Linked DNA regions of Homo sapiens. The protein of the gene in region 1 purifies or fractionates together with the protein of each later gene. This does not show direct contact. Each region holds a gene or a part of one and is shown on either strand. Other genes may lie near its edges.

Evidence for each region.
Region 2: the proteins of ARL5B (region 1) and SRPRB purify together in Homo sapiens (affinity purification with mass spectrometry; 3 studies listed by BioGRID and IntAct, with this or other methods). This does not show direct contact.

Annotation. Positions count from the first base shown.
Region 1 is NC_000010.11:18,663,884-18,681,188, forward strand, and holds part of ARL5B (ADP-ribosylation factor-like protein 5B), read left to right. Parts: intron 1-2,691; coding exon 2,692-2,752; intron 2,753-4,646; coding exon 4,647-4,794; intron 4,795-8,738; coding exon 8,739-8,822; intron 8,823-10,100; coding exon 10,101-10,252; intron 10,253-11,284; coding exon 11,285-11,333; 3' UTR 11,334-17,305.
Region 2 is NC_000003.12:133,801,369-133,810,184, reverse strand, and holds the start of SRPRB (signal recognition particle receptor subunit beta), read right to left. Parts: upstream 4,371-8,816; 5' UTR 4,337-4,370; coding exon 4,183-4,336; intron 3,577-4,182; coding exon 3,482-3,576; intron 2,440-3,481; coding exon 2,362-2,439; intron 1-2,361. UniProt on the Homo sapiens protein: Component of the signal recognition particle (SRP) complex receptor (SR). Ensures, in conjunction with the SRP complex, the correct targeting of the nascent secretory proteins to the endoplasmic reticulum membrane system.

The DNA.
Region 1 (17,305 bases):
GGTTTCAAACACACTAAACTTAAACTTATCATCTATCTGCATCCTGTCTTCCAGACCATTCTTTGTTTTTGTTTTGTTTTGTTTTGTTTGAGACGGAGTGTTGCTCTGTCACCAGGCTGGAGTGCAGTGGTGCAATCTCAGCTCACTGCCACCTCTGCCTCCCAGGTTCAAGTGATTCTCCTGCCTCAGCCTCCCAAGTAACTAGGACTATAGGCACCTGCCACCATGCCCGGCTAAGTTTTGTATTTTTAGTAGAGACGGAGTTTCACCAAATTAGCCAGGTTGGTCTTGAACTCCTGACCTTGTGGTCTGCCCACCTCAGCCTACTGAAGTGCTGGGATTACAGGTGTGAGCCACCATGCCTGACCTGGCTAACTTTTTTCTTAAGAGATGGGATATTACTGTATTGCCCAGTTTGGTCTCAAACTCCTAGATTTAACTGATCACTTCTCCTTGGCCTCCCAAAGTGTTGGAATTACAGGTGTGAGTCATTGCACCTGGCCTAAAACATTCTGATTTACTGTAACTGATAGTAACAGTAGTGTCTTTTTTTTTTTTTTTTTTTTTTTTTTGAGATGGAGTCTCGCTCTGTTGCCCAGGCTGGAGCACAGTGACCCGATCTCGGCTCACCGCAAGCTCCGTCTTCCGGGTTCATGCCATTCTTCTGCTTCAACCTCCCAAGTAGCTGGGACTACAGGCACCCGCCACCATGCCCGGCTAATTTTTTTGTATTTTTTGTAGAGACAGGGTTTCACCGTGTTAGCCAGGATGGTCTTGATCTCCTGACCTCGTGATCCTCCCACCTCGGCCTCCCAAAGTGCTAAGATTACAGGCGTAAGGCACCACGCCTGGCCTAACAGTAGTGTCTTAACCTAACATTTCCTCATGTTAGGGACCTACCTTTCAAAATGGTGCATTATTGGTGAGTTTTACCATCACAGGCCTTCAGTATTATGTGAAGCATCATAGTGCAAAAGTGAAGCAAGGAGCAGGATTGTTTGCAAATGACCTGGGTCTTCATTTGAGTTGCTTCAAGAAGGAGCCATCTGGTACTGTCCTTCCATTCCTTTCTCCCAACAGGATTATCTGCCTTCAAGTTTTGCTTATCTTTAAACTAGTGGCTTCCTTCTCACCACTGCAGGCATGTTGTTTTCTGTAGATGCTTGGTAGGTGGAGCTTCTAGCTGTCACCAAAATTTAGAATGCTTAGTGCCAGGCAGTCTGTTTGTTCCTCACTGATAAAGGTTCTTGTACTTTAAGGGATAACAAACAGGGTAATACTTAAAGATTAGCTTCATTAGAGGACATGTAGCCAAGCTTGGTGGTGTGCACCTGTGGTCCCAGCTATTCAGGAGGTTCAGGTAGGAGGATCACTTGAGCCTGGGAGGTCGAGGCTGCAGTGATCATGCCCCTGCACTCCAGCCTGGGCAACAAAGCAAGACCCTGTCTCAAATAAATAAGGAGAATTATAGTGAGTTATACTAAGCAGGCAAGTTTTGTTTTGTTTTACAAAGCAGCTTCTACCATAGTGAAAATAGCCCTTCCAGAGGACCGTGTCTGTTTATCCTGCACTGTAATAGGCTGTATCTAGAGTGTGTAGGTCATTGGAAGACCTGCACATCTCAAGAACTTAAATTTTCTTGGTCCCTCTTTTTTTGGCTGATGAAGTTTAGAACTTCAGAGTAGGAATATGAGCTGATAGTTGATTATATGACCAGAATGTTGACATTCACCAGAGGTCATCAAGAAGAGCGGGATTCTGATATGAGATGTGCCCAATCGTTGCCTACAAATCAACTGTGTTGTGATTCTGTGGAAACTTCCCTACTTACCCTGTTGATGTTAACTTGTAACTTTTTAAGCATTCTTCTGCCTTGGAGAAGGGGATCTTTAGTATACTTGGCATAAGTGAAAATCTAGGAAAGATGGTATCTGGGTTGTTTTCTGTATTCAAAGGACATTGCAGAATATATACCACTTAACGGAATAATTAGATGAGCTTTAGCAACTACTTATTAAAAGAGGTGAATATTTAGTGCATGGCACCCAAAGGAGGAAAGAACTGAAGAGATTTTCATTGTACAAAGAGCAGAAACAGAATCTGCTCAAAAGAACTGTAGAAGCCGGTTGAAAAAATGTTAAACAATGAGTAATTGTGTAAAAACTTGAGAGTATATGTTTGTCTTTGTGACACATGAAACGTTTCAATTTTAAGCTTACATGGGATTTTTAAGTGAGAGGAAGAAACAGATCCTGGTATACATAGGTGGGGAAACTTACAGATATGAAAACATTTTGATAAAAAGCTAACTTGATTGGTACAGAGCTAAAAAGGTGTGTAAAACAGGCTTTTTAAAAAACTTACATTTAGGTTATAATTTTTGCCTAGATTAATATTTGGGTCTCCTCTCCCCTAGATGCAATATAAGTGACCAACTTTGCTGGTGTTTCCTGCCTACCCATCTCCCACATTCTTTTACATGAGAACTAGACAGAGAATCAATGATAATTGATTTTGTTACTTAACCTAGGTAGCCTTAACATCATAACATTTCTTTCTGCATTTTAAGTCTAGTGATAGATATTCAGTGAATGATTCTCATTAATGAGCTAACTAATAATCATTGTTGAAAGCATGTAATTGCAGTAATGCAGTAGTGTTAAATGTTTATGATTTGCTTTCTTTTTGTAGAACACAAAGTAATTATAGTGGGACTGGATAATGCAGGGAAAACCACCATTCTTTACCAATTGTAAGTATGGGTGTTTATTAAACAGTTTTCACTAGTTATTGAAACTAATGTGTTTACAATTAATAAGAGATGCATTATAATAATGACGGAAAAACTTAAATATATGTTTTTTGTTTTTTGTTTTTTTAATTTTACCGAACACAATCTATAGAAAAGTGAGTGAAATAAACATTTGCTAAACCCTTCACAAACACTTATTGTTTTCTGCCCTCGAAAGAAAGAAATTAATATTAAATAAATAAAGCGCATATTAGAAGTGCTGGGGTGAGGTGATAAAGTGGATTTCACTTAGTTCTTACCCCACTTGGGTTTATGTAAATAAATTGATAGCTCTAGGAAGCCATTGCTACCCTCCTGACTAATAGCTTTGGAATTTTTTAACATAGCCAGACTTGTCAAAAGAAATGTGATCACTCCTGAAAATATTGCTGTAGTAGCTTGCAAGAGGGAGAGTCTTGAGACTTTCAGAGAAATCTGTTAATACCTTAGGAAATTTTCACAGCTCATCATTCCACTTGTCAGAGTACCTTCCATTATCCTTTCAATGCCAATGAAATGATAGTATTAAGCAGTAGAAGTGGATCTACCAGGCACTTTAACAAAATAGTTCTACAGTTCTTTGCCCCATTGTGTGGCTCTTACCTCTTCCCACTCATGTTGCATTAGAAGACAGCCATCAGCTCACCAGAAGTACTTCATTAGCCAGTGATTAACGCATTTTTCAGCTACTTTGCTAAAAAGCTACTGACTTAAAGTTTGTTGTTTCAGAGTTGAACAACTACTTGTTTCTCTTGAAAACATTTTCATTCATTGGTGATTATGTGTTTAAATATGAATTAGCTTTTAAACATCACATATAAACATTTCAGAAACCTGTCATCTTTGTTGAAATAATTTTACACATGGCTTCAAAAATATACATAAAACCCAAGAGAATTGCAAGCCTCCTCCAACACAGTAGTGACATGTTACTGGCAAGGGCATATTTGTTGAATTAATTGATTAATGTAGCTTTACCAATGATTATGATAATACGAGGGGTATGAGCATCAGTATTCTAAATATATATATATATATATACACACACACACAAACACACACACACACATATTTGAGACAGAGTTTTGCTCTGTTTCTAAGGGTGGAGTGCAATGGCGTGATCTCCACCTCCCAGGTTCAGGCGGTTCTCCTGCCTCAGCTTCCAGAGTAGCTGGGATTACAAGCGCCCACCACCACGCCCTGCAAATTTTTGTATTTTTAGTAGAGACGAGGCTTCACCATGTTGGTCAGGATGGTCTCAAGTTCTTGACCTCAGGTGATCCACCCAAAGTGCTAGAATTATAGGTGTGAGCCACCACACCTGGCCTTCTAAATATATCTATAGTTAATTTAAATTTTTACTTGCCCATGGTCATCTTTTTAGGACTACTTTAGATTAATATGCCTGAATTAATTTTTGTGACTAAGTCTCAATTTAGACAGTCTTCAAAATTATAGATAGCCTGCTATCCAATATTTGCTATTTTGCAATCACCTAGAAACTTGCTTTTCAGGATGGCATGGGACATTGGGTCTTATCTAACTGATAACAGGGCATGGTGGTATTGGAATTTTTGGCCACAGAAATGCAAATTCACACCACACTGTTTCCTTTCTTTTCCATCAAGCTTGCAATTCCTTCCGTTAAAAAAAAAAACAAACAAGAAACAAGTCTTTCTTCTGGAGTTGTTATCTAGATATTGATTTGCGCAAGTGTTCTCCAGGTTTATAATTTTCATGCTAATGATCACCATCATTGGTGCAGAAGGTTGATTGATCTTAAAAATACAGAGATAAAAGTTGCTTCAGATTCTCAAGATTTACAAGAGCTTTTACGGTGTCTGTTTTTCAACAGCTTAATGAATGAAGTGGTTCATACTTCTCCAACCATAGGAAGCAATGTTGAAGAAATAGTTGTGAAGAACACTCATTTTCTTATGTGGGATATTGGTGGTCAGGAGTCTCTGCGATCATCCTGGAACACATATTACTCAAATACAGAGGTATGCTAAGATGAATTTTGAATTTTAATCCAAAGGTCCCTAGAGTAAACATAGAAAGTAATTAGGCTGCACCTGGGCGTATTGACAGTTGCCTTTTTTTTTTTTTTTTTTAAGACGGAGTCTTGCTCTGTCGCCAGGCTAGAGTGCAGTGGAGTGATCTTGGCTCGCTGCAAGCTCCGCCTGCTGAGTTCAAGCCATTCTCCTGCCTCAGCCTCCCAAATAGCAGGAATTACAGGCGAGTGCCACCACACCCGGCTAATTTTTGTATGTTTAGTAGAGACCGGGGTTTCACCATATTGATCAGGTTGGTCTTGAATTCGGGACCTCGTGATCCACCCTCCTTGGCCTCCCAAAGTGCTGGGATTACAGGCTTGAGCCACCGTGGCCGGCCTTTTAATAAGATCCTTTTTTGTAGGGAATTTGGGTTTCCTTTTTTTAAAAAATAAATAAATAAAAATTTCATAAATGAGACTTAAGAATTTGGGTTTTCGAATAAAAGAAAAGGCAAATAGAAAGATTGTTTGGAGCTATTATTACTTGAGTGCTTACTGTTTGGCCAGGTTCTCTCCATTCATCTTCACAAGATTTTCATGTCTCCAGGGTTGGAGAGATCTGACACGTGGAGATATTATGTAGGTTTCCCCAAGATCTCACAACTTTCTAAGAGACCCTGACCGGTGGAGGAATAAAATATTTTATTAATTTAAAAATTTTTTATACCATGAACATTCAAAATGTTGGTAGATTTTTTTTTAATTAGAAAAAAGTAGATTTGCAAATCATCTCTCAAAGTTCTCTGCCACTTATGAGTTCAGAGCTAACTTGGGGAACAAACCTGGATATATTCATGTTCTATTTCTGCTTTTATTTCTTATTAGAGGCAGATTTTTTTAAAAGCCATTCAATGTAGTTTAGAGAGATTTATCCTTGATAGTATGATTTCACAATTGCATCCATTTAATTGTTCTTTGCAAAGAAGTACACCTAACCAATTATTTTTTTCTAAAATGAAACCTTTTAAAAATTGGAGTTGGGCCAGACACGGTGGCTCACGCCTGTAATCCCAGCACTTTGGGAGGCCGAGGCGGGTGGATCATGAGGTCAGGAGATTGAGGCCATCCTGGCTAACACAGGTGAAACCCCGTCTCTACTAAAAATACAAAAAACTAGCCGGGCGTGGTGGGGCAGACTTGTAGTCCCCAGCTACTCAGGAGGCTGAGGCAGGAGAATCGCTTGAACCCAGGAGGCAGAGTTTGCAGTGAGCCGAGGTGGCACCACTGCACTCCAGCCTGGGTGACAAAACGAGACTCTTATCTCAAAAAAAAAAAAAAAAAAAATTGGAGTTGGAAGGGAAGAGGTAGAAAAGGATATAATATGAATAATTTTTGGTGAACAAAGTTGCCTCTTTAAAAAACATGTATTGTTCTAGATTTATATTATAATAGCATGTGTGTATGTGTGTATATATTCCAATGCAACGTGTAAGTAAACAAAGATGGCGTATCATAGATAATCAGAACTTGTGGTAGCACTGAATTATTTTATTGGGTATGCAGAAGCTGTAAGCAAATAATATAGTTAAAGGGTAGCTTATACATTTATACAGTAAAATAATGTTCTGAAACTAGAATAAGTTAGAAAGTAAGGGAAGGGCCAGGCGCAGTGGCTCACTTCTGTAATCCCAGCACTTTGGTAGGCCGAGGTGGGCAGATTGCTTGAGGCCAGGAGTTCAAGACCAGCATGGCCAACATGGCAAAACCCCATCTCTACTAAAAATACAAAAATTAGCCAGGCATGGTGGCATGTGCCTGTAGTCCCAGCTACTCCAGAGGCTGAGGCATGAGAATCGCTTGAACCTGGGAGGCGGAGGTGGCAGTGAGCTGAGATAGCACCACTGCACTCCAGCCTGGGTGGCAGAGTCTCGCTCTCTCTCAAAAAAAAAGAAAAGAAAGTAAGGGACAAATGACATTGTAGCATATGATTAATTTAAACATCAGAGCTGTTAGTAGTTTTAAGCTCACAGTTAACTCCAGCTGTGAAAAGGGCAGTTATCATTGATGAATAGGTCAAAGTTGATTCTAGTGAATCCATATGTACTTAAAGTGTGTCGAAAGGGTAGTTCTTGAAGTGACTGAAACTCTGGAGGACTTAGCATGGGTCCAGAAAGAGATATCCATTACTGATGCCATTTGCATGAAACGTTCTTTTAATAAGTGATCTCTACAAGAATATCAAAATTACTACAAAGAACAGTGGCGCCTGTCACTTTGCATTTTGAAAATTCTTCACGTGGAAGAGTCCCCCAAAAGCGGTAGTATGTCCATTATAATACAAGAAGTTACAGGTATTAAGTAATTATTGACACCTTCCTCTCATTAACTCACAGTTGTTTCCCATATTCTGTTGATTCCTCCTTTGCCACGCGACATTCTTTCCGTTTATTCCCTTCTAAGCCCAACTCAGTTTATATTCAGATTAGTTGTCTGTTTCCCTAATTTTATTTATTTTTGTTTTTTATTTATTTATTTTTTTGAGATGGAGTCTCAGTCTGTCACCCAGGCTGGAGAGCAGTGCAGCCTCCGCCTCCCAGGTTCAAAGGATTCTCCTCCCTCAGCCTCCGAAGTAGCAGGGACTACAGTACACACCACCACACCTGGCTGATTTTTGTGTTTTTAATAGAGACAGGGTTTCACCATGTTGGCCAGGTTGGTCTTGAACTGTCCTCAAGTGATATGCCCACCTCGGCCTACCAAAGTGCTGGGATTACAGGTGTGAGCCACTGCACCTAGCCTGTTTCCCTAATTTTAAAGTCATCTCTGTAATCTAATTCTACCCTTCATGTCTCAGTTTATTTTGCATCTATCTCCTGCTGTAATAACATCATTTCATCTCATTTCTTAACTTTTTATTCTGTATACAGTGTTCAGCTTAAGGGTGCTTTTTCGCTGTATCATCTCCTCCATCTCCTCCTCCTCCTCCCCCTCACCCACCCCCCACATTTTTTAAAAAATGAGTTAGGGCCTCTCTCTCACCCAGGCTGGAGTGTAGTTGCATGATTCTCAGTACAGCCTCAACTTCCTAGGCTCAAAGCAGTCCTCCCACCTTAGCCTCCCAAGTAGGTGGGACTATGTGCATGGCTAATTTTTATTTTTTGTAGAGAGACAGGTTCTCACTATGTTGCCCAAGCTAGTCTCAAACTCCTGGGCTCAAGCAGTCATCCCACCTCACCTCCCAGAGTGCTGGGATTATATGTGTGTGAGCCACAATGCCTGGCCTATATCTTCTTATTTTTTAATATGCAAACTCCCTTTTTTCATGTATAGCTTTACCAACAGATTTCTCCTCTTTTTTCTGGTGTCTTGCCTTTATTTAATTTCACCTGAATCTCCAGTATATAATGCCTAAGTATATATGTTTCAATCTGGAGCATTTATGGTGGATACTGTTTTATAAAATTGTCTTATTTTTAAAATGCATTTATCTTTTTCTTTCAAACTAGCTTTTCTTTCTAAGAGTTAGGAGATTGTGGTATACACAAGTAAGCAATTATTGACTGTTTAGATGAATGATAATGGAGTACTTTGAAGTTTTAGTGAAAAATATTATTGAAATTAGTGTAAGTTTCTTTTCAAAAATTGCTTTTTACTACCAGCATTTGAAAACAAATCATAGTATTATGTATTCGGGCATCACTTAAAATAAAACAAGTGGGGCACAGTTTTTATTTGTTGAAGCTATGAGTTATTTTCTTACTGTTAACATTTGGATTTTACTGCTTGATGTGGTTCAGTATTATAAAAGCTGTTTATGGTGAAAAAGCAGTAGATGTTTTATAGTAATGATGATGCCATGTAGAGAAAGTACTTAGATTACTTGAGTAGTTTTACAGAAAACTTTTCAGCATCCCATTCAATTTTCTGTCTTTCCTTTTAATTTTCTTCTAGTTCATCATTCTTGTTGTTGATAGCATTGACAGGGAACGACTAGCTATTACAAAAGAAGAATTATACAGAATGTTGGCTCATGAGGTAAATTTTTAAAGTAAATCTTTAAAAAACAGTGTAGTAAAGTATCTGTACGTTGCCTTTGCTTTTTTGCAAAGATTAATGTGATATGATGTTGGCTATTTTATGATTAACACAACTTTATGTACTAAACTGATGAAAGTCTTGAGGTAAAAAAAAATGTTCATTACTTTTTCAAACTTAAAAAACCCTAACACATTAATTTGTAGATTACTACTGTTATTGTAAAAATTTTTCAAAGCTAAAGTTACTTAAGCATGCCTTTAAAAGTCTGATAAATTGAGATAAGCAAAAGGAAAACTTAAGGGTCTTTTCCCCAAAAGTTTCAATAACTGAAAGGTTTTTTTTTTGTTTTTTGTTTTTGTTTTTGTTTTTTTTGAGACGGAGTCTTGCTCTGTTGCCCAGGCTGGAGTACCGTGGCGCGATCTTGGCTCACTGCAACCTCCGCCTCCTGGGTTCAAGCAGTTCTCTGCCTCAGCCTCCCGAGTAGCTGGGATTACAGGAACCCGCCACCACGCCTGGTTAATTTTTGTATTTTTAGTAGAGACAGGATTTCACCATCTTCGCCAGCCTGGCCTTGAATTCCTGATGTCGTTATCCGCCTGCCTCAGCCTCCCAAAGTGCTGGGATTACAGGTGTGAGCCACTGTGCCTGGCCTGTATTCCATGTTTTTCAAACTTATACTATATAATATATATCTTTCTGAATCTTGCTCTTTTTGTACAACATTGTGACTTATCCATGATAATATATTCTGATTATCCATCTTAATATGTACTGCTTTCGTTCATTCCTTTTAACAACTGTATAGTTTTCCACAGTATGAGTATATCACAATCTATTCTTCTAATGTTTTCATAGTATAAACAATGCTGAAATGAATATTAACCAATGACCTTATGTTATACAAAGACTAGTAAGTAATAAGTATTGCCCAGCTCCCACCACCAGTACTCTTAAGTTTTGGATAAACTCTAGTATTTGGCAACATACTACCATATTTGCCTATTAGAATATTAATTATGTATTTTTGAGTCAGTATTTAAAATTCAGGTGTATTTTTTTTTTTCAGTTTGACCAGTTCGACTCAAAAATAAAAAATAATTATTTAATATTAATCTGTTGGAATGAATAATGAAATTACGGGTATTTGAGATTATTTTTATGTTAAATACTAGTGCCCGATTATGTTAAAGTAGAAGCACTTCATTATAACTGTTCAGCTGGGTAAATTTAAATTGTGGTATTTCACATATTAGAAATATTTTGTCTTGATTGCAGGATTTACGGAAGGCTGCAGTCCTTATCTTTGCAAATAAACAGGATATGAAAGGGTGTATGACAGCAGCTGAAATCTCGAAATACCTCACCCTTAGTTCAATTAAGGATCATCCATGGCACATTCAATCCTGCTGTGCTCTCACAGGAGAAGGGTAAGTTCATCCGTCTGAGGGGAGGTATGACTTCTTTCAAATTTCTTCCAACTTTTTAGGCCAACTTGTTTTCTTCATGGGTCCTGTTCCTTTTCTGTTTGTTTGTTCTTAATTAAAGGTGACTTTTATAATGTGTCTCAGGCTTACAACCTAGAAATAATTCTAGTAAAATCACTGGCAACTTAAAAACTTTTAATGTAAATATAATGTTTTACCAAAAAGCAATAAACTATTGAATTGAGTTTTCATAATCCAAATTTTTTTCTTTGTTGCCTTTATCATATACTGAGAAAAAAACTGTAATGTCACCTTTCTTTTAAAAAGGAAGCTTGAAAGAAATTTCACATTTTCTGCAAGGACTTAAACCTGAGCTCTCAGCTTTCTGCAAGAGTATGTCTTCTTTATTATTAGGAGGTCTTTTGGGAGGCATATTTCCAGACAATAAACAGTTGAGACAAATGCCACATGGTCTATTCTTCCATCTCTAACAATTTGAATGTGGGTATTAGGCCAAGAAGAACCGAATGTTATTTAAGTATTATCCTGTTTATATCAGAGAACTTATCCTCAAATCAACCTCACCTTCTTAGTTTTTCTCTTAGTATTTATCAGAAATAGCTTGCAGTAATAGCTGTGTGTAGGCCTTTTTGACTCATACTTTTAAGACTGAGTCTAAGTATTCCATTCTTTAGAATTGAGGAGGATAAGGTGAAGTTGCTATTGACTTTCTCCAGTCGTTAAGTTTCAGTTAATTTTAAAAGGCGGGGAGTATTTGCACTCTTCATGGCAAAACTGGCAAAGTTGTATCTTCAAGATGAGACTGAAGCAATTTCCCACAAACTGATTAAGAATATTTAAGAGAACATTCCATTTAAAAATTTCACTTATTATAGTGTGACTTGAATGTTGACACTGATGTATATAAATAATGATTGTGCTACCAGCCTTTGGTTAAGACCTAAAAATAATAAGTACGCTTTCAGTTTTTAAGTATAAGGTTTTTAATTAAAAATACTTCTATCTTTTGTTTAGGTTATGCCAAGGTCTAGAGTGGATGACCTCCCGGATTGGTGTGAGATAACTTTTTTGCTTGAAAGAGACTGCTCTATTTATTCTGTGACATGAACATTTTTTCCTAGTACCTTTGGCTGCTAAGGCAGCAGCATGTTTAATTTATAACAACACAAACCTCTGAGAGCAACACTTGAATCAAGTGCAGCTGAACTGGAACATAAAAGATTTTTTCTTAACTTTTTTTTTTTAACACACTAATCTTCAGTTGGATGAATGTAATGTATAACTATGTTTTCAGCAACAATTCTTCTGTTTATTCTAATTAATCAGTGACTGCCTTGTAAGAAATGTTTGTCATATGCGTGATGTCTTCTGAAATATTCTTATAACCTTAATGACCAATTGCTTTCAATTCTTGACCAGCACTCCCTCCCAACCAGAGAATTACTGGTTTGATAGAGTAGTCTTGGAAACCATCAGGTACTGCCTGCAGACTTCTCCAGCACTAAATATATTTGTTCCCTCTATAAACCATTCATCTTTCGGACAGAACTTACTGTAAAGAAAGAAATCTGCCTAGAGGATATATGTAAGGAAGATTCCACATCATGAGTACTTGCCTTTTAACTTTCCCCCACATTACTGTTGAGTCATGGAATAATGTTTAAGTTGTTATTTGCATGGAAATTAAGTAGGCTGTTTATTTATCTAAAGGAATCAAGTCCACTCTTCTGCCTGCAACATTTGTTCAAAAACTAACCAAGGTAAAATATTTATTTGAAAGCCCAACTTTGATGTTAAATATTCTTGAATAAATCTGTTATTTTAAGAATATCACATTATTCAATGCATATAAAACTATCAGAAGTTAGTAAATCATACCAGCACTAAAAATAAGACAATTGGAATATATTTTAGCATCAGTTTACAAACAACTTTATTATCAACAGAAATTTTAGCTCTTTTCTTTGCAAGATATATCACAGCTGCTTTGGGCAGTAGCTGAAGCCGAAGTATGAACAGTCCATTTTGTTTCTTAAAATTTGAAGTCGTGTCTGTCATAGCATTTTTACTACCAGCAGTATGTTACTTAAAAAACTACATGGCTTTCCTTGAATTTATTTGACGGTATTATGTAATAGACTTGAAACAATTGCCATCTTTGTAGTTATGCCTTGGGTTCTAAAATGTTATAGGAAACTGCTGAATTGAATCCTAGCTTTTAGAATATTAATAGGAGACTCAAAGTTAATATTCTTAACAACTTAAAATTAAAAAAAGTCATAATCTATCAAAAGTTTATTTATTGGATGGCATTAAAACATTTTTGAGGCAGTTGTCTAATATGAACAATAATCTAAACAATATATTCCTTAAATTAAGAGGAAAGACAAGTGTCGTATTTCGATCCTGTTTATTCAAATGTGTGATTTTGCTGAAATGAAAGGGATAAAATGAATACTTAGAGAATAATACTTCATTTTTGCAGTACTTTTTAATTTTGATAAAAAAGATACAAAGTTCATAATATCAAAATATGTGTTCAAAATTGGTATTTTAATTTTAATATTTTTGTAAGTTGATTTAAATTTTGCTCTTTTTTCAGGTGTGCTTGGTTTATTATATTTAGTCAAGTTAATTTAGTCGAATGTGGTAACATTTTTCTGATTTATCTTTAGTTGGAGCACACCCTTGAACTGAACAGTGGCCAAAGGAAAGCTTTCTGGGCTTTGGAAAGTAGTTGTTTAACTTTGTTTTAAGCCGTTTTCTTAGTGATTCTGTATCAAGTAGAGGATAAGTGTAGTTTAACTTAGTTTTTAATATAACCCATAATCAAGAACATGAGCGAAAAGCAGACATAAATCGATATGGATGGTTTGTGGTGTGTGTGGGATGTGGGGGAATTAAGAAAATGCCATTTACCTAAGCACAGTTTGCCTGAATTTCTGCTTGGTTGTGTTGTTTACCGTAAGTACTGAGGGTAGTTTCCCTAAGTCTGTCCTGAGAAAAAGCATACTTAGTACTCCTGTATTTGTTCTTATGAAATGACTATCTGCCTTCTTGTATCTAGTAAGATTGGCTGGCTCAATTTTCTTCTGTCAAATTATATGGTTATTTTTTATATTACCACATCAGCATTATATTAAAAGTGTTTTTAATAGTTGATTGTATTTTGCCAACTACTAGTATAGACTCAAATTTGCTATTTAATTTTTAAAATACAATTTATTTTGTAAATCCTTTAAAAAATATTTGGTTAGTTTTGGATTAGAAATGATTTATGTTAGCCATGTGTTGAAGATGAAATTGGCATCAGTGTAGACGGTGCTGATTGGGAAAAGTTCATGATTAGGAAATTCATGTAAGACTTTTTAAGAGTATTTTTTAGGTTTTCACTCAATCTTTCCTGTCACAGTAACGTGAAAACTGATTATTCTTTACTCCAAGAGAATGTTTTAACCCAAGCAAGTATCTAATACTAGAGCATTGGTTCTGACATTCATTGTAAATCAGTGAACTGTAAGATACTGTCTAAAAAATGTACATTTGTAATTAGTGCCTTTATTCATATTTTGAAATAAGTTCTTAGTTTTATATTATACCTGTTCTTTAGAAGTCATGTTAGCAGCTAATTATTTCAGTGATGAAATAATTTGTGTTTTATATCCCCCTTCACCTCCATGTATTGGTTAGCACAGTTTATAGTAAGTGAAAAGCAAGGGACCCACCTACATTACCTTCAGGAGACTGTTCTACCTTTTAATTTGAAAACAAGGAAATTAAATTTTAACAGAAATCTTTTAAGTATGTTATAACCAAAGTGTTCAATTATCCTTGCAAGTTCAAATACAGCATTTTTCTTAATTTTGAGCGTGTCATGTCCTTCATCTTTAAACCCATCATTCTTATTGAAGCCCATTTGAGAACTCTTAGAATTAATAGAACCTTTTATAAGGGAATATATGGAATATTTTTTATTGTTAATGTAACTTAATTCCTTAAAACCTGGAATATTAATATATATAATCTATTAAAAGCTGAAGATTAAATATGTAATTTTTGCTTTTAGTTTCTTGTGTTAGTATGCTTAAAGGTATCAATACTTTTATTCTATATTCATTAGAAGAAAGGTAATAAATTTAAGTTTCATTGCTGAAAAATTTTAAATGAGTGCCACCCCATAGCCATAGTCATTTTGATTAAGCATAATTTAACTTTCATTATAGCATAAAGAGAAAATAATTATTTTAGTATGGAAACAGTGATAGGCAGTGCTGTAAACAATATTCTCTGAAAAGTTGTGGGGGTCACAAAGAAAATTTTAAAGAATATAGAAGCTTTTTTAAAAAATCTTTTTAGTGTAGTTTCTTAGAACAAATTATAAACATAATCATTCTGAATAATCAATTTTTATTTAGTCCTTAACTATGTAAAACCGTATCAGTAGAAAAATGTGCTGGTGTCGTGTCTAAAGATGGATAAATTTCTTTGGAATTTATCTTTGGAGACCAACTTTATGAGGCAGACTTTTTGTCTACAGCTTTGGAACCAAAAAAACTTCACTCTAATTCAGTCCTAAAGGCTATTTTACATTTTGCCGGGGTAAAGTGACTTCAAGATACAGCATGGTGTCTTGTATCTAGTAGAATATTGTGCTAGCCATCTAAAAAAGTGGATTTGAGCCTTAATTTGGCCGTTTCTCAATTGTCTAGTTGACCTTAGACAATTAGTGTCCATGGCTTTCCTTTTGTTTTTCCCATACTGAGGAACTTAAACTACAGCTCTAAAATGTCTTTTGGTTTTAAAATTCTGAATGCTTATATACTACTATTAAAAATTAAAAATCCCTCAAATAGTAGGGCAATACAGGTAATATGAAATTAAATGTATTTTTATCCATTATTTGATTCCCACCTGTTATTTTATTTAGAATACGAATACAACCAAGTAGGGAAAAACGTATCAGTAACTGCTATTCAACTTAAATTCAGCGAATTAATAGCTGAATAGAAATAGCTAATGACAATGCAAAAGAGAAAACAAGCCATATTGCTAAGAAAAGGATAGTAAGCTGCTTAGAAAGAACCAGCCTGTGTTGGAAATAATTCTCTTCTAGATAATTTACCTTATTTTCTTGGCTTGTACTAATTGAATGGAAGTGGTTAATTTGTTCAGAGTTTATTGCCGTTTGATGCCACCCCAGTCTATAGTTCTGTGTGACTTTCCATATTGAAAGAGTAGGGTTAGTAGCCAGGTTGTCAGTCTTTTACAAATGTCTACATAAATGTCTACATAAATCTGAAAGTGGTTTATATTCAAGGTTAGTTTTTCAGTAGCGTCTCCTCCTTATTCATTCACTTTTACTGTGAAGACTGAAATCCAAAAGCCAGGTTCCCCAAAAAAGTATTTTTAAAAAATTTTAGGGGACCAAAATAAATAGAGGAAGACCAATATAAAAAAATATGTTCAACTATTCCATTTTAAATTTAAAGCAGAAAAAAAAATTGTGCCCCTCAGACCTAAAGGCAGCTTTAAATGTATATAGTTTGGTGAAACATTTGGGAAATATTAATTTGGAGGTTTAGAAGCATACGAAAAACAAATTCAAAGCACTTGAAAGTAAAGACAATATCATGAGGTCGAAAAAACTTCAAAAGGATATTAGGTAAGAGAAAATGTGAATGAAAGCAGTGAATTTCTGCCTCTCCTCGTATTTAGGGTACTTAAAATTACTAAAAAATACTGTCTTTTTACCATACAGCTAGATGGCCTGTATTATTCTTAATGTGGCCAAAGGAGTGAAGACTGATTAGGGTTTTAGAATTTGGAACTGTAGTCACATAAAGGCATCTTTTGCATTTCTTAAACCAGTAATCTACATTTTCTCCTGGAAATGGAGAAATATGAAATGTGCTGTGCATAGCTTTTGGAATAGAAAACAAAGTTTTAAAAGAATGGATATGTTTTCTTGCACAACTTGTAAAATTTTAATTAAAAAATTACCTCATTTTTCAATCCATAAGGTGCTTTGCTCAAGTTTGTGGGATGTTTGTACCATCCCATAAAAACCCCCTTCACCCAAACTGTATTTGAAATATGCAAAATTCATAACTAAGGGATAGCATTCCTTGGAGACTTTGTTTTGTTTTACTCTTGTTTACCAGCTGGGCCAACATGGTAGATATATGAGATTCACATATGGTTTCATTAAAGCACATAGGAAAGTGCTCAGTCAATATTTAATTAGTTTAATTAGATAAGGGAAAGGAGAAATCCTAAATTTGATGGATTCTTTTATACTGTGAATATATTTCCATCAGTGTTGGTAAGATATCAAATGACTATCAGTTGATCCCAGTCATCAGTGACTTATTTGCATATTTAAGCCCTATTCACAAGAGACCATAATCATTTTAATCTTATATTTTCCCTCAGGAAATTTAGGGACTCTGAAGCCCCTATTTTATTCTCTTGGAGTAAACTGTTGAGTGTAGTTACAAAAACTTTTATTTATGACTTAAAAAAAGTTTAGCTGCTATTTCAGTGAAAGTGTAAAATAAAACGGTCATGATTTTTTTCAATTACAGAATAGTTACAAATTTTACCATGTTCATCTATTCCACAGAGCATGTTAAAAACAACAACAACAAAAACCTAACAGCAATTACAACCTTGGTGTTGCGTTTATTCTAATCAGAGTGAATGATTATAATCACACTTTGCTATTTTAACATAAATTGGTGCTTTAGAGCATTAAAGAGGAAGCAGCAGGCCCTGTACTCAGTATTTATTATTTCTTGCCTCAGAATGCAAAACAACTTTAAAGTGTCTATATTCATATATATGTGCATTTCTTAAGATTTAAATACAAACTGTTGTTACTCCTTAAGCTTCAGGCTTTCTGCGAAAGCTCTAAGAATATCTTCATTACTATGCTTGGTCAACTGGAAGATGGTATTAATAAGGTCAGAATTAGGAATTGGATTGCTCTGTGGGTCCTCCGGTATTGTGCAGAGGAAAGAAAAATGTCTTTCACAC
Region 2 (8,816 bases), on another chromosome or scaffold:
TTATTAGTCCCTCTCTTTTTTTTTTAAGTACTGTTAAGAGTCTGGAGATCCCAGGTTGGGACTTAACTGCTCCATTTCAAAAGCAGCACTATACCACACACCCTAAGCAATTTGGAAGATACATTACTAGGTATATTACTATCTAAAGAGATTAGATCGAAAACGTAAGGGGGTAGGAGAAAGAGTGAAGAGGGAAGGGAAAAATGCTCTATATATTCAGTAGAAATATTGATAGAATAGAAATATAGTAGAAATATAGAATAACAGAAGCCACATATGTAATTTTAAATATTCCAGTAACCATAATAAAAAAGTAAAAAGAAATTGGTAAAATTAATTTTAAGTTATTTAATCTAATATATCCAAAATATTATCTTTTAAAATGTAATAAAAAAAGAAATTATTAATGATACTTTACGTTCTTTTTTTCCATACTAAGTCTTCAAGATCTGGTGTGTACTTCACACTTACAGCATGCCTCAATTTGGACTAGTCCTAGTTTAGGTGCTCAACAGTCACATGTGGCCAGTGGCTACATATTAGAAGGTACAGATTTAAAGCATATCCTGGAGTATCCTAAGTTAAAAATCTAGTGCAGGTACTAGATGATCTTGCAAACCTGGAATTTCAAAATCTGAATCCTTGGGAGTTTAAAAAGGTCTGGGCCACAAAGAGTGTCATCATTGAAAAAAAAAACAAAGATATCGCTAAGATATTTAAAAACATGTCCCTTTATTTTTCTTTACAATCTTTAATTCTGGAGGCATGAGAAAGGGGAAAGAAGACAAAGAGAAGAAGAAAAGGTCTCAAACCACAATTCTAATTCATCCATCTATCCATCCACATCCTCCAACGAGCCCTCACTCCACTCACTCACCGAAACTTATTACATGGCTGGGTGCAGTGGCTCACGCCTGTAATCCCAGCAATTTGGGAAGCTGAGGTGGGCGGATCACTTGAGGTCAGGAGTTCAAGACCAGCCTGGCCAACATGGTGAAACCCCATCTCTACTAAAAATACAAAAATTAGCCAGGCATGGTGGTGGGCGCCTGTAATCCCAGCTACTCAGGAGGCTGAGGCAGGAGAATCGCTTCAACTCGGGAGGCAGAGGTTGCAGTGAGCCAAGATCATGCCACTGCACTCCAGCCTGGGCAACAGAGTGAGACTCCTGTCTCAAAAACAAACAAACAAACTTATGCATTACAATCGGTTTGGTAGTCACTGTCTACATTCTGAAGTTACAGAGGTATGTAAAATGTCTTTCCCATGATTCCTTATATTTTTTTTTTTTTTTTGAGACTTAGTCTCGCTCTATTGCCCAGGCTGGAGTGCAGTGGCGCAATCTTGGCTCACTGCCACCTCCACCTCCCGGGTTAAAATGATTCTCATGCCTCAGCCTCCCGAGTAGCTGGGTTACAGGCGCCCACCACCACACCCGGCTAATTTTTGTATTTTTAGTAGAGACAGGATTTCATCATGTTGGCCAGGCTGGTCTTGAACTCCTGACCTCAAGTGATCGGCCTACCTTGGTCTCCCAAAGTGCTGGGATTACAGGCGTGAGCCACCAAGCCAGGCCCCATGATTCCTTATATTTGAAATACACTCATATATACTCTGTAAGATATCCATTGCAGCACTGTTTGTAAAAGCAAAGGTTATAATAACAAAACTAAATGTCTATTAACACGGTCCAGATTAAGTAAGAATTTAATTTTATGGTATAGCAACAGAGTGGAGTACTATGCAGCTCATAAACCAACCAGATGGTACTATGTATACAAATGTAGGACAATAAGAAAAGCCCAAGTTGTATCAGCCGTATGAGAAAAATAATGGGCAGAACAGCATTTAAAAAAAAACAACAATAAAGGATATACAGACATGTTTGTATATGCACAGAACATCCGGAAGACTACATACAAAAAAAAGTAAGTCACTGCTTCTGAGGAGAAAACTAGGTAGTGGGGAAAGGAAAGGAAAAATTACTTTTCACCAAATATCTTTTCTAACCTTTTGAATTTTTGTCCCATGTGCATGTATTACCTATTCAAAACTTAAAAGGTTTAATGCCCACTCTTAAGAACTCATTGTAAAGTTGGAAAGAAGACACAGAAACAAAAAATAAGAATAAAATGTGATATAACATTACTGTACATTAAGGTACAACAATGCAGAGGAGGGCATGATTAAATCTACTGTACAGATTGTCAAGAGAATTTGTCACAAAGAATATGTTTCTCCATAAAAATAAGCTACAAATGGTACTTACATCCTCAGATGAACTCATCCTAAAAATGTCCTTAACTGACACACCACAGTAAAGTAAGACTGTCAGACTCCAAAACTCCACAAACATCTTACCCTGTTATTGTTGACTCTGTATACAGCACAGCTGTCAGTAATGGACGTCTGAGTGTCTCTATAAAGGCCTGTTAACAACTGTAAAAAAAACAAGATGGGTGATATTCAACATTTTAATAGCACACCTAAATTGAGTTATATTATTCTAAGTCTCCCAGGTGTAAGGTTAAGTAAATGAATGCTGCTTCCGACAGGTGAAAAAGACGATATTGATTTTTTTTACCTGTAGAAAAAAATCTAATTAATTGCATATTTTACTCCTCAGTGGAATAAAAACAACATTATTCTCAAAAGACAGTTAGTGGCCAAATTTGCCAAGCTTCTGTAAAGATTTTTAACCAACAAAAATGATTTGAAGCCTGGGCAACATGGCAAAATCTCATCTCTACAAAAAATATAAAAAATCAGCCGGGCGTAGTGTTGCACGCCTGTAGTCCCAGCTACTCGGAGGCTGAGGTGGGAGAATCATCTGAGTCCCAGAGGTCAAGGCTGCAATGAGCAGAGATCTCGCCACTGCACTCCAGCCTGGGCATTGGAGTGAGACACTCCCTCAAAAAAAAAAAAAAAAAAAAAATGGAGGTATTTCTTTAATGGAAGGGAAATAATTTATACTCTCAAAAAGAAGAGTTAAAAAGCAGAAAACCTCTCCTATTCACCACATTAAAATACACTGTTAAAAATACTAAATGTATTAAAAATAAATATTAGTAAAAAGAAGCCTAACTAGCCCACTATGTCAAAGAAGGATCACCCTGTGAAAAAGTGTCTTCGATAAACTGTCCTAAGAATTTGTTAACGAAGGAATTATAAACTGTAGGACACTAGCTTCTATGCCTTCTGCTATTCTGGAATGAAACTAATTAAATAAAATCCTTGAATGTGATAAAGACTAAATATCAGCATCTGGCAAGGGCAAACAGAAAAAAAAAAGGAGAAATGACCAATATTTCTCAATTATGGGTTTCTACGAGTCTTTTTGTTCTCCCAAGTAAGTCAAGAATTAACTTCCAAATTTAACAGCATCAGCTTCTTTTACAAAATAAACCGTGAGATGACAGGAATACTGGGATCTATAAAATTTTCTATTAAGCTTAACAGGGGTGTCAATGAAATCATTTACCCTGACAAAGAGCAACGTTTTCCCGGAATCACAAAGGCCAACAAGAAGAACAGCTCTCTGACTGCTCCTTCTGCTCCGGATTAACTTCCAGAAGACTGTGGAATAGACAGAGAAAAACAACAAAAATTACGCCTTGGGAATCAGTATATGTGCATGGCTGGGGTGGGGAAATTCACAGAAGTCTGTGACGAAACACCTCATTCACCTGGAACTGACTTTTATCATAATGGTTACTATTGCTGTTGTTAGGGATCCACTGAGAGCCAGGCACTGTCAACTGTCAACTTTTCTTTGCAGTCCTTACTCTGACTGGGACTCAGGTGCTATCTCACTACCTTGGTATCCCAGCGCCCGCACGCAAACACGGGAGGCTGAAAGTTGGTGTCAAGACCCTGAGTCTTTGCAGTGAGAACAGCGGAAGGCGAGGAACAGCGCGCTCAAGCGTAACAGGGCAGATGACGAAGAGCAATCTGCGCCCCAAGGACCAGGACGTTAACTCCGGGGGTTGCCCGGCATCCCCCTTAACGCCCAGCTGCTGCCGCTGCTTCAGGAGAGAGGGTGGGGTGTAGACTGGGTGGGTCTCACCCTCCTGATGCCCTCAAGGCGCCCTCTCAGCCCCGCGTCCCCGGCCTGCAGCGGTGCAGCCAAAGCCCGGACCTCTGCCCGCCCCAAACCCGCCATGACCACCGGCCGCCTTTTACCTAGCGTCAGCAGCACCGCAAGAACCGCCACCACTACTGACAACAGCGTTGGGTCCGTCTGCTGCAGCTCCTGCCGCAAGGTGTCTAGGTAGGGCTGGAAGGTGCCCCCGGCACCGCCGCCATCTGCCACCCGGCGCGAGTCCGCGGAAGCCATGGATGAGACGCGTGGTCCCCGGTACAGCAAAAGCGACGTGGCCCTGCACTCTGCGCAGGCGCGGGGAGCAGAGCCTCACGCGAATGGTGGTTCCTAAGCCATAGTCTCTCCCTCAGCCGCGGCGATCCCCCAAGTGCTTGATGGGAGTTGTAGTTCTCTGGGACTCCGTCCTCCTACAGAACGATAGGGGCAGACAGGTTATTTGTCGAGGGACACACACATCTTTTAAGAGATGAGTCAGTCGTCGTCACCTACGTTATGACTGTTGAAAGAATGATGAAATGAATAAAATGAATGAATGGCTCCCGAAACTACCACTGAGGAGTTCCCGACCGTCGCTAAGTGACGTGAGACTTGTGAAGAACTCAAGCATCCTACAAACATTTAATCTGAATTTAATGTGACAAGGGATGTGACAGATGGATGTACGGAGCGATGTGGGAATACATAATGGGACGCGGAGTCCATCATGAGTTCAGAGAAAAGCTTCTGGACATTGGAATTGAGTCCTGAAGAATGAGTTAGCATCTGCGAGTGGTTAAAGGAAAAAAAGGTGCTGTGCAGAAGAAAATGAGTGTAAGAAACGATGTATGTGGGAACCCTAAGTAATTCAGTGCCCCTACACTGTCAATCTAGGGCTGCAAACTCAAATGTCTGCATTAAAGGAAGCAACTAGGAAAATCAACGCCCAGGAGAGCTGGGGCTGTTGAAAACTGCAGGAGGTATTTCTGCTGAAAGTAGGGCCGACCCTATTCAGCCAGGTAGGTGTTATGGGACCTGGGTGGCCGGTTCTTCCAGTTTTCAAGAGAAGCAATAAAGGCAGATTTTTATAGGAAATTTTCCACTTTTGAAATTTTCTGTAGGTAATTGAAAGCATTCAAAAACTTGTGGCCCAAATAAAACACCAAAAGTGGCCAGCCTAGAGGGTCCCAGTTCACAGTCTCTGTCATTAAACAGCTGTCATTGTTTTAAAATGTACACATTATTTAATTTAATTGTATGGCTGAGTAGAGACATGAAGATGTCAGTGTCACTGAAAGATTGAAAAAAGTTTATTACAGTTCCACATTGCCATTGAAAAAGTTGTCAGCATCAAAATGGAGTCACTTGTATTTTTTTTTTTAATCAGAAAAATGGAGCTGGTGAAAGGCCATGGAGGGAGGGTTCTCAGGCACCCATGCCTGATGACAAAAACTGTCACAAAAGACTGCAAAAACCACAGACTTGCACAAAGGCCATCGCAACCTTACACACAAAAAAATACATCTGTTAGGACGGCTACCCAGCAACTCCCTGTCCAACCTAGTACTGATGCCATCCTTGCCATTTGATCCTTGTAGCCAAGGATAATTATCTTAAAACAATTATGGAATCTGACTCATTTTTTCTTTAAAAATCTTTGTCTTCCTTTACACCCCCCTGAATATGCACATAGTTGACTATGGCATGCGTAGTCCCATTGCAATGCCTATTCCAGAATAAATATTATTTTCTTTTAGAGCGTCCCTCTCTGCTTGTTATTTAGCTTGATACCACTCAGGGCCACACAAAACCTCACCATGCACAGGGACAAGGAAAAAGAGAGGAACTGGGGGAGGACCCGGTGACTCACAGCTATTAATCCCAGCGCTTTGGGAGGCCAAGGCAGGAGGATTGCTTGAGGCCAAGAATTCAAGACCAGCCTGGGCAACATAGTGAGACTCTGTCTCTGCAAAAAACATTTTCTTTTTTCTTTTTTTTTTTTTTTTTTTTTGAGACAGAGTCTCGCTCTGTTGCCCAGGCTGGAGTGCAGTGGTGCGATCTCGGCTCACTGCAAGCTCCGCCTCCCGGGTTCACGCCATTCTCCTGCCTCAGCCTCCCGAGTAGCTGGGACTACAGGCGCCTGCCACCATGCCCGGCTAATTTTTTGTATTTTTAGTAGAGACGGGGTTTCACCATGTTAGCCAGGATGGTCTCGATCTCCTAACCTCGTGATCCACCCACCTCGGCCTAAAACATTTTCTTTAATTAAAAAATAATTAGCCAGGCATGGTGGCATATGCCTGCAGTCTCAGCTACTTGGGAGACTGAGGCAGGAGCGCTTGAGCCCAGGAATTCCAGGTTACCGTGAGCTGTGATCACATGCCACTGCACTCCAGCCTGGGCAACAGAGCAAGACCCTGCCTCCAAAAAAAGGAAAAAAAAAAAAGGAACTGGGACTCTTCCTTTATTACTAATGTGTCAGCGAGTAGCTAGATAGAGATGTTTTTGATTGGGCAAGAAGCGAAACACAGATGTTAAGGGTTGTATTAGGAAGATTTGCAATATGATTTAGGCACACCCTCAAAAGCCAGGCCACAGGGGAAATGTAAACAATGTTGGCTGTTAGTTTGGCCTAGTGATCAACAGATGCCAAATCATCAATTATAAAATCTATAAAAATTGATTAGAGCAGTAATTTAAGTAGGAGTGACAGGAGATGAAGCTAGAAAGGTTGGCAGGAATCAGACCAGAAGGGATTTTCTGTGCTATGTTGAGGAACTTAAGAGTTTGTCCAGAATGCAATAAGAAGTTTCATTTGGGGATCGCTTCTCGGCCTTTTGGCTAAGATCAAGTGTAGAAGTTTCATTTGGGGTGACATAGATAATTGACAGATCTATGGAGGACTATGACTTGAGAGGAAAAAAAAAACTTCAGACAGAGAGACCAGCTGAGAGCATTTAGGCAAAAGATGCAGTATTTAGGCAAAGGATGCTCAGAGTCTAATACAGAGACAGAAATAGGTATGAAAATGAGAGCACAAATTTGAGAGATGTCTGAGAGTTAAAATACGTAGGATGTGATTAGTTGGATATTGTGAATTAAGTAAAAGGAATGTTATCAAGGCTGCATCCTAGGTGGTGGGTGTGGGTGACTAGGAAGATGAGAAAGCCATTAAATGAATTAGGGACCTCAACGGGAGAGGGCTTGGGGCTGTGGATCCAACGTAAGAGTAGCCAGAATGAAAATTGTCTCTTTTCTATATGTTGAGTTTTAGGTGCTTCTGGGAAATCTAAAAGCTTATGTCAAGCAAGTGATGAGTAAACACAAATAAAGTTCCACAAGTATATACTAGATTTTCATTTGGGAGTCAGGAATAAATAAGTGGTCATTAAAATCATGGAGAACATGAAGAATGAGGAAAGGAACCCACAAAAAAGCCTAAGAAGGAAGAGTCAGTGGCACAGGAGTAAAACAGACATGTCCTATAAGTGGTCAGTAGCATCTTCTGTAGCAGAGAGGCTCCTTTGACAAGGCTTTGAATGAGTCTGAGCTCAAGGGGATAAGCAAGGGATGGGGCAGTGTGGGGATGGAAGCAAGACTATGGTGTATGGGGAAGACAGTGGGGCATGAAGATAGTTTCTAATGTTAATGAGCACTTCCTGGTGCCAAGCATCATTCTAAATACTTTTAATTTTTTTTTTCAGGCAGGGTCTCACTCTGTTGCCCAGGCTGGAGTGCAGTGACAATAGGGCTCACTGTAACCTGGAACTCCTGGGCTCAAGTGATCCTCCTGCTTCAGCCTCCCAAATAGCTGGGACTACAGGCACAAACACCATGCCCAGGTAGTTTTTTTATTTTTATTTTTGTAGAGACACAGTCTCTCTCTGCTGCCTGGGCTGGTCTTGAGCTCCTGGGCTCAAGTGATCCTCCTGCTTCAGCCCCCCAGAGTGGTGGGATTACAGGCACAAGCCACCACGCCCTGCCTAATGTATTAATTTGTTTAATTCTCACACTGACTCATTTTCTAATTTTACAGAGGGGAAACTGAAGCAGGGTTGAGTAACCTCCCCAAGGATATATAGTAATGAGCAGACTTGGGACTTCATCCCAGGCAATTGGGCTTCTATCTACTTAACCGTATGCTTTAACATAGTAGGATTCATTTTCAAGGCATTTTTAATTGATAAAGGTAGGCGATAGGAACTCCAGATCAAGGAAGGACGGTTAAGATGTGAGGCTTAAGTAAGTAAACCAACTACTTTATTTTAAATTACCAATTTCAAAAATATCAGAACTGGCAGCGGTCATGCCACATTCCATTTCTCTTATTTCTTATGGTCCTAACCGCTGCTCTGTATTCACCACCCAAAACACACGCACACACCCCTTGTATAATATAACCACTGATTCCTCTTTAGAAAAATCACTGGATATTACCATTAGACCTCCTGACTGGGGACCAAAGATGCAGGGAAGAAGGAAGAGCCAGACACGGAGAGTTCCAACCGTAACTGTCTTAACTCGCTGAGGATATTTGGTCAGAGCTATGTGAATGAAGAGGGCTGCCGTGGTGGTGAAGTTGGGAAAGGAAGAAAAAAGGTTCAAGAAAAGAGACTTTTTTTCTTCAGTATGTTTCCTGGGCAGAAGAAATGTGCACAGCTCCCACACTCAGTGAGAAGTTAGCACTCCCATTCTCAGGAATGAGCAGGAGGGGTGAGATTAGTTGCTTCCCTGTACT